Homo sapiens: one gene and its partner. The protein of the gene in region 1 interacts with the protein of each later gene in a pairwise test. Each region holds a gene or a part of one and is shown on either strand. Other genes may lie near its edges.

Region 1 (3,806 bases):
CCAATGAAAGCAGATTCAAGGACAGTCACAGGATTAGACGGATAAGGTTTTCGTTTTAAGGATGAGGCAGAAGAGAAGGACACCAAAAGAGGACACGGAAAAAGTGAAAAACCCAGGCCCTCCAACACACTTGGGAAAATAATGACCTTTTTTGTTTTAATTCCAAACAAAATGTAAATCAATAGAGATCACAGGTGCACTAATGAAGAGTTCTTCAAGTGGCATGCCTTCCTGTTGCCTTTCTGAGCCTCATAGACACACAGAAGGAGGAAGGAAGAAAGTGATTTACACTGGTTTGCAGAATTTGATATTCCTCCAAAGGTAATTGTGCGGCTCTTGATAATTCAGCAGTTTAGATTCACCACGACATTTCTTTTTCAAGGGCTATCTCAGTTCCTCAAATAGATCTTTATTTTACCACTCACACATTCAAGGATGAAAAATGTGCCTCACTGCATTAAATTAAATTACCTTTAAAACCTGCAGCTTTGCTTCAAGCTCCGTTCTTTTCAGAATCATTGTTCCATTAAGAGTCTCTATCCTGTTTTAAGGAAAAAAAAAAGAAGAGGAAGGTGGGGAGTGAGTAACATGAGTGATTCGTTTAAATAAGTACCATACTACAGAGTACTACACTTTGAGCACATACTATACTAAAAACGAAATACAAATGTTACAGTTCTCATGGCACTTCGAGTAGCTGGACCAAAGCCAAATCTTCTGATAACAGAGAAAGAAAATGGGGGAAAACTCCCCTTGAGAAGGTGGCTAAAAGAAAGGATCCTAGTTAATTTGTAAACTATAGCTTATTTTATAGAAGTCACTATGTGACAATGATGGCTGCTCTCTACTAGAATCTGTTCTTGTGGGGATGGGCTGAATGACCTCACTCATTTGGTAAATATTTATTGGGCATCTACTATGTACCAGATTCTAGAAACCATGCTGAACACAAGGGGCACAACAACAGAAATAATAGGCTCTAGGGGCTTTCACAACCATGGAATTAACATGCTACTTCTTGAAAGAGGGAGAAATCCTTTCCTCCATAGGATTCTAGGAGCCTTTACCTCTGTAAATCTCCTTATAATTTTGGTACTAGAAGAAACAGAAGTACAACTACTATGACATAATAACCTTCATATGATTCTTTATCTCAAAACATTCAGTTTACAAACTCTAATCCTAGAATTATCAACTTACCAGTGTTCTGTTCTTCCCACACCACACACATTTCTAAAAATAAAATACTTGTTCTATTCTGAGTGATTTGATTTGTTCTGTGTGTTCAAGTTAAAGGCTTTTATTTTGACTACTAAACCATCAATCTGAATATGATTTAAAAATTTCATTTGTGAATCACACACCAATTTTTAAAGTGTTGGTTCAAGTTCCTTCTTGTAATTAAGCTGTACCTCTCTATAAAGATGCAAGGAATTTTTCAAGGCATGGTAAAAGCATTAAATGTGGAGATCAGTCTTCTACTTCTAATAGCATCATGCCAGGAATAATCAGGTGGTAGCAAGCTATATACTGTCTGTTTTCTCCTTAAGGTGATCTTGACTCTCTGAGAAATAGTGGGAATCCATATGAATCTGTTTCATTGGGATTGAATGTCAGTTTGACCTGCTGAAGCAATAGATGTGTATGGGCAAAACTGCAACCATTGATTTGGCCATTTTCCTCAGTATTTGTACAGACTGTCTCCCATTTTCCCGGATTTCCAACAGTTACCTCCATCTACAACCCCTATTTACCTGTGGTCTACCCTCTTCACCCATGTGGAACATGCTTTCTGACTCTAACTACCAGCAGTTCCCCTCAGACTCTGCACGGTTCCTCTCCTTTGGATCCAGGGTTCTCTAGAGCAAAAGCACCTCATCCTTTACCCTGAACTCACAGGACCTATAGAGTTGGACCCAATTTGTTACCACCACCATCTTTCAAATCTGCTCTCACAAACACCCAAAGCATCCTTTGAAGTTTTACACCAGAATCACTGAAAAGCATCCAGCAGATTTTCTACTGGCAGCTTCCAAGGAGCAGCTGTAGCTGAAAAGGACAGATCCTGGCATCCAGAGCAGGTGGTCAAACCCCAGCCCTATCACTTACCAGTTATGTGACCTTAACTAAGCCCCCTCTAAGCTTCAGGCACTTCATCTATAAATAGGAATAAAATTAACCTCATGGGTGGCTGTGAAGAATAAATGACACAATATATGACCCACCTCAATCAGAATAAAACCCAAACTTGTTGGCATGTCCAAAGAGATCCATGGTCTGCCCCCAGGCCAACTCTCTGGCTTCATTTCTTATTATACCCTCTCTAATCCATCAAATACCAATTATACTGTCTTTTTCTCTTTCCCTTGTACATGCCAAGCCCATTGTGAGCACTCAGAGACCTCTCTCTTTGCCTGAAGTGCTCTTACGAGGAGTTCATTTGACCATCCTTCTCTTCATTTAGATCTCAACTCAAATATCGCCTCCCTAGAAAAGACCACTTTACACATCTAAGCCAAACTAGCAGCCTTCTTACCTAGCATGACAGGCCATTGCTGTTTTGCACTTTTCTCATAGTAGTTATCAATAACTGAAATATACACATTACTTAAATTTCAGGCTTTTCTGAGCCATTTCCTTCCATAACTATTAACGTACTAAGAGAGTCTTTATCTTCGTCTCTCCTGAGCCTATCACAGAGCTGGAAACATAGTATTTGCTCAATAAATATGATTTTAATGAATGAGCGAATTTCATCATTTAACTATCCTAATAAGATTTTATTAGGTGCTAGTATTGTTATGGTAGAAAAATCAGTCAAACCTCTAATTGGGAAAGCCAGTGTTCTATTAAGAAGTTTGGGGCCAGGGGCGGTGGCTCATGCCTGTAATCCCAGCACTTTGGGAGGCGGAGGCGGGTGGATCATGAGGTCAGGAGATTGAGACCATCCTGGCTAACACGATGAAACCCCGTCTCTACTAAAAATACAAAAAATTAGCCGGGCATGGTGGTGGGCGCCTGTAGTCCCAGCTACTAGGGAGGCTGAGGCAGGAGAATGGCGTGAACCTGGGAGGCAGAGCTTGCAGTGAGCCAAGATCGCGCCACTGCACTCCATCCAGGGCGACAGAGCGAGACTCCGTCTCAAAAAAAAAAAAAAAAAAAAGAAGTTTGGAACATTTGGAACATGTGGTGTGAGTATGTGTGTTTCAGGGTGGGGAGGGTTGAACAGACTATTCTTCCTTCCAAATGGAACACTAGAAGAGAAAAACAGGTGGCTTGTCACATAAGAGGAAAAACTCAGCCCTTCTGACCTTTGATTTGTTTTAGCTACAGGATTATATCAACCATGAAAATTGGATCAGTTCTTCCCAGTTTAAAGAGAATGTGTGCCAGTTTAATTGAATTTGACATTAAAAAAATACATTTGTAAAGGCCATCCTTCCCACACAGACGTTTGGGCTATTGATGTCCTCTGACTTCAGATGTTGACAGTATGTTCAAGTGTGAGGAATCTTGAGAAACAAAAGGAACTGATAATGTTTGTACCCCACTCTAAAGCTCCGGTGCACTGCCTCACTCCGTCTTGTAATGCTGAACAAAAGGCCTATTTATTCACTCATCAGGCTTTATGAGAAAACATAACATTTTGAAGCCCCACGGGAACTAGACAGATAGTTACGTTAGCAGGTTTCCGGACGATCTGATCAGGTCAACGACTTGTTTGTAGGTAAAACCTTCTGTGCTCACACCATTGATATTTGCAAGGACATCACCTGGGAGATGCCAAGAAAAATGAGTGTTATGTT
Region 2 (4,466 bases), on another chromosome or scaffold:
GAGGGCTTAAAGGAAAATCAAATGTCAGCGATGGCTCGGGTTCTCCTCCGCTCCCCACCACAGCCCGCCCTATCATCCAAGTGCAGAAAAAAACGGATGAGAATTAAGCTAAAAGCCAGAGAGAGAGAGAGAGAGGGACAGAGGAATTCTTTTTGTCCTGTCTTTAATAGTAGTAGTAGTATCAGTATTAGTATTCGCATTATTAATGTGCCTGTTCCCAACCCTTCATCCCCTCCCCCCAGTTTTGTCTTGAAGTTTCCTGCGGAGGCAGCCCGATCTGTCTGCTACCCACCCACCAGCATCCAAGAGTTATGCAGATGTTTATGGCTGAAAAAAAAAAATCCCAGTTATGCATCCTTGTATTTTTAAATACTGACTGTAAGTGATTCAAGTATAATCCTTTGTAAAATGCTTTTCTCTTTGACACATTGAAGGGAGTTGAGAGAGGAAAACCCGGCGTGGATTCCCCCTCCCTGGCCCCTCTCTCACCCACCACCTTCGCCCCAATTCTGCCAGCGTTGGGGCCCCTGGAAATCCCTGGGAACCTGCACCCAGGCAGGGAAGGCGTCCGTGCTGGCCCAGGCTCGACCCAACATCAGTTGGAGTTGGGTTTTAGTTCTCGGCGCTGGAAACTGTTTGGGAAGAAAGGCGCTCTCTCTAAGGTTCACTCTCTCACCTTTGCTCAAGGGAGCCAGGTCATGAGAATTCAGAATTTTAGACGCTTAGATTTGGCTGCAGCCGAATTTGGGTTCCTTCCACCCTGGAGAGGTCAGGGATCCCTGAGGGTTCTGCTCCCTAGCTGCGATTGGAAGGTGAACAGCCTCAGGGTGAAGGCCTAACAGATACGAATTTGTGGGGGAAAGAGGGAAGAGAGTCCAGGGAGAAAGAGGAGGCCCCCAGACTCGTCCCCAGTCGCCCCTCCTCGCTGCTGATACTCGCCTGTCCCTTCCCACCCAGTAAATGCTCTAGGGAAGGCCGCGCGCCTATGGCAGAGCTTTGTCTGTAAGGAGGCTTTTTCCCATTCCAGAGTTTAAAACGGAGAGGAGAGCGGTTGGGGGACGCTACAAACAAGAGAGACACAGTCGGGCTCAGGGTGAAGATAGACAGCGCAATGCCTTGGGCCGCAAGAGAAAAGCGAACTCCCAGACGGCAGATGTTTGCTTGGGGCGGTCACCCTGGCCCCCCGACGCCCGTCCGGCCTAGAGAGGACGGCAATTGAGCGCCAGGGAGGTCAAGGCGGTGTCCTGGGAGCCCAATATCGGCTTTGAAAAGTGCCGAGTGAGTCTGAACGTGAGCCTCGAGGCCTCGCCTCCAGGGAGCGAGGTCCTCGGGTTGGTGGAAGGGGCGCACGCCACCCAGATGGCATTCACAGGCCTGGCATCCCAATAAGCTAGAACTTCGGCCAACACTAAAGGGTCAAAGGAGGAGCTGCAGGAAGAGGATAGCGGACTTAGAAAATTGGTAACTTAAAAAAAGAAAGAAAGAAAAGGAAAATTGGCTCTGGTGCGTGCCCGCTGCCCCCACCCCCGCCTGCCCCTCTGGAATCCAGTCCGGGCTTTGCGCCGCGCCCACAGGCCGACGCAGCCCGGCCTCTGGCGAGAGCCAATCAGAGGGCGCCTCTCAGCACGTGGAGGAGAGAGACTCCAGAGCTCAGCGCCCGCTGCTCACTACACTTGTTACCGCTTGTCCTGAGCGCGGAGAGGGCGAGCTCGGGCCGCGGGCAGGGCGGGAGCCGGCAGCCGGCAACCAAGGGAGGCAGAAAGGCACAAAGATCGCAATAATATCCGTTATAACCCGCTATCTAACCCCACCCCCAACACACACCCATCCATCCCACCCTCCGGGAGAGGCAGCCGGCGATCCGCTCTCTGCGCCCTGGGAAAAAGCCCCAGCCATGAGCAATCAGTACCAGGAGGAGGGCTGCTCCGAGAGGCCCGAGTGCAAAAGTAAATCTCCAACTTTGCTCTCCTCCTACTGCATCGACAGCATCCTGGGCCGGAGGAGCCCGTGCAAAATGCGGTTGCTGGGAGCCGCGCAGAGCTTGCCTGCTCCGCTGACCAGCCGCGCCGACCCGGAAAAGGCCGTGCAAGGTAAGGATGCTCCCGTCAGGCACTTACTAAGGGCATTGGGCCCTGATTTGGATGTTTGGTGTTCGGGGGCCAGTGGCCTGGAATTGTCAATTTGGAGAGGAAGGAAGGAGAGGGCATAACTCTGAGGCCTGCTGCCTCAAAGAGCGTTAAACATCTAGCCAGGGCTGTCTCTCCCTCCCTCCCTCCCTGCTTCCAGAAAAAGGCCCGTTTTCGCTTAGGGAGCCTTTAGCTTTTCGGTGTTGATCGTTAGGTTGTTTAAATGCCCCTTTTGGTGGCCTTGGGTGTGCTCTGAAGAGCGGCGACAGGTCAGAAACAGTAGATGGCCGGTGGACCCTTGTAGCACCAACTTGATGAAGACAAGAAGCCCAAAAGCTGGTGAATCGGGGTCTCCAGGCTGAGTGAGCCTTGGCCTTTCCTCTTTGGAAGATTTCTGTATATGCAATGTTTTGGTTTTATTTTTTTAATTGCAGATTACTTGTGACCTTTTAAACCCAAGCTTTGCAGAAAACATCTTCCTGGGATTCTCCAAATGCTCCTTAATGTATTTAAAATGTATGAAATGTGTGACTTCTGGATGCTAATTTTTTCTCTGCTATTTTATTTTTTAAAATAGACGAGCTGTTTAAAATATTTTATTTTTTTCTGAAATTAAAAATTCCAGAACAAATGTCCTTTTACCCCGAACCTGTTATCCTCAAGTTTCGCCTCGAGCTTGCTGCAGAGGTGTCGCAGGGAAAGGAAAGAACTGTTGGTTTCTTTTAAAATCCAAAAACCAGCGGTCCGGCCATAGCGCAATTTGGATGGCAGGAGCAGACGGTTGAGAAGGGGGCATTTAAATAAAACTGACTTTTTTCTTTTCTTTTTTTAGCCTGCAGTGGCACCTATGCCAGGCGCTTCCTCAAAAGGAAGGAGCGGCCTGCGCCTGCTGCACTCCCACTCCCTCTCTGCCCCAGACCTTTCCCAGAACATTTTTGCCAGGATGATTTTTCTTTGCCTTTTTGTGCAAGAAGCCCCCCCACCCTCTCCCGCTGTGGGCTGTTGGGGCGCGGCCTGCACTTGGGGCCACAGGGCCGCTTTCCCCCACCCCGCCCCGCAGCGGTCGCCTTCAGGGCTGCACCCCTCTTGCCAACCCTTGCCCTCATGGTGGAGCAGCGGGCAGAGGTCATGCGCAAAGTTTTCAGGATAGTGGTGATTTTCTTTTAAAGTTGTAGAATGTTTTCGGATTTTCCTCTGCCCCGACGTGGGAAGGGAAATAAAAATGAGAGAGTAGGAAAGGGGAAAGAGAAAGGAATAAAGAAGAAAGAAGGAGAGAGGGGAGAGAAAGCCTGCAAAAAGAGAAAGAAAGGGGGAGAGAAGGAGAAAGAGAGGTGAGGAAAAGAAGGGAGGGGGAGAAAGAAAAAGAAAAAAGGTAAGGAGAGAAAAGGAAGGGAGAGAGGGGCAAGAGGAATAGATAAGGGAAGGAAGATAGGAAATAAAAGGGGGAGAGTGAGAGAGGGAACGGAAAGAAGGGAGAGGAAAGGGGAAAAAAGAAGGAACCCAGAGAAAGGGAGAAGGAGAGAAAGAAAGAAAAAGAAAAAGCAAGAAAAGTGGAGAAAGAGGCCAAGGCGTCGAAGTCTGGTGGTGCGCGGTCCCCGCACGCCTGGGCCTAGGCACTGGGGGAGCAACTGCGGGCGGGCCCCGGCAGCAGCCCTGGCTGGGACTCCCCGGCCGGCCGGCTGGCTGATAGCTCTCCCTTGCCCGCAGGCTCCCCTAAGAGCAGCAGCGCCCCGTTCGAGGCCGAGCTGCACCTGCCGCCCAAGCTGCGGCGCCTGTACGGCCCGGGCGGGGGCCGCCTCCTTCAGGGTGCGGCAGCGGCGGCGGCGGCGGCGGCGGCGGCGGCGGCAGCGGCCGCCACGGCCACGGCGGGTCCACGCGGGGAGGCCCCTCCGCCGCCACCGCCAACCGCGCGGCCCGGGGAACGGCCGGACGGCGCAGGGGCCGCCGCGGCAGCCGCGGCCGCGGCCGCCGCGGCCTGGGACACGCTCAAGATCAGCCAGGCGCCGCAGGTGAGCATCAGCCGCAGCAAGTCGTACCGCGAGAACGGGGCGCCCTTCGTGCCGCCGCCGCCCGCGCTGGACGAGCTGGGCGGCCCGGGGGGCGTCACGCACCCGGAGGAGCGCCTCGGCGTGGCCGGCGGCCCGGGCAGCGCCCCGGCTGCGGGTGGTGGCACCGGCACCGAGGACGACGAGGAGGAGCTGCTGGAGGACGAAGAAGATGAGGACGAGGAAGAGGAACTGCTGGAGGACGACGAGGAGGAGCTGCTGGAGGACGACGCCCGCGCGCTGCTCAAGGAGCCCCGGCGCTGTCCTGTGGCCGCCACTGGCGCCGTGGCCGCAG

What was found.
Region 2: the proteins of CYTIP (region 1) and ARX interact in a two-hybrid assay, tested with the Homo sapiens proteins (one large-scale study listed by BioGRID and IntAct).

What each region holds. Positions count from the first base shown.
Region 1 is NC_000002.12:157,426,880-157,430,685, forward strand, and holds part of CYTIP (cytohesin-interacting protein), read right to left. Parts: intron 3,774-3,806; coding exon 3,680-3,773; intron 542-3,679; coding exon 472-541; intron 1-471. UniProt on the Homo sapiens protein: By its binding to cytohesin-1 (CYTH1), it modifies activation of ARFs by CYTH1 and its precise function may be to sequester CYTH1 in the cytoplasm.
Region 2 is NC_000023.11:25,013,166-25,017,631, reverse strand, and holds the start of ARX (homeobox protein ARX), read left to right. Parts: upstream 1-1,666; 5' UTR 1,667-1,894; coding exon 1,895-2,090; intron 2,091-3,833; coding exon 3,834-4,466. UniProt on the Homo sapiens protein: Transcription factor. Binds to specific sequence motif 5'-TAATTA-3' in regulatory elements of target genes, such as histone demethylase KDM5C. Positively modulates transcription of KDM5C.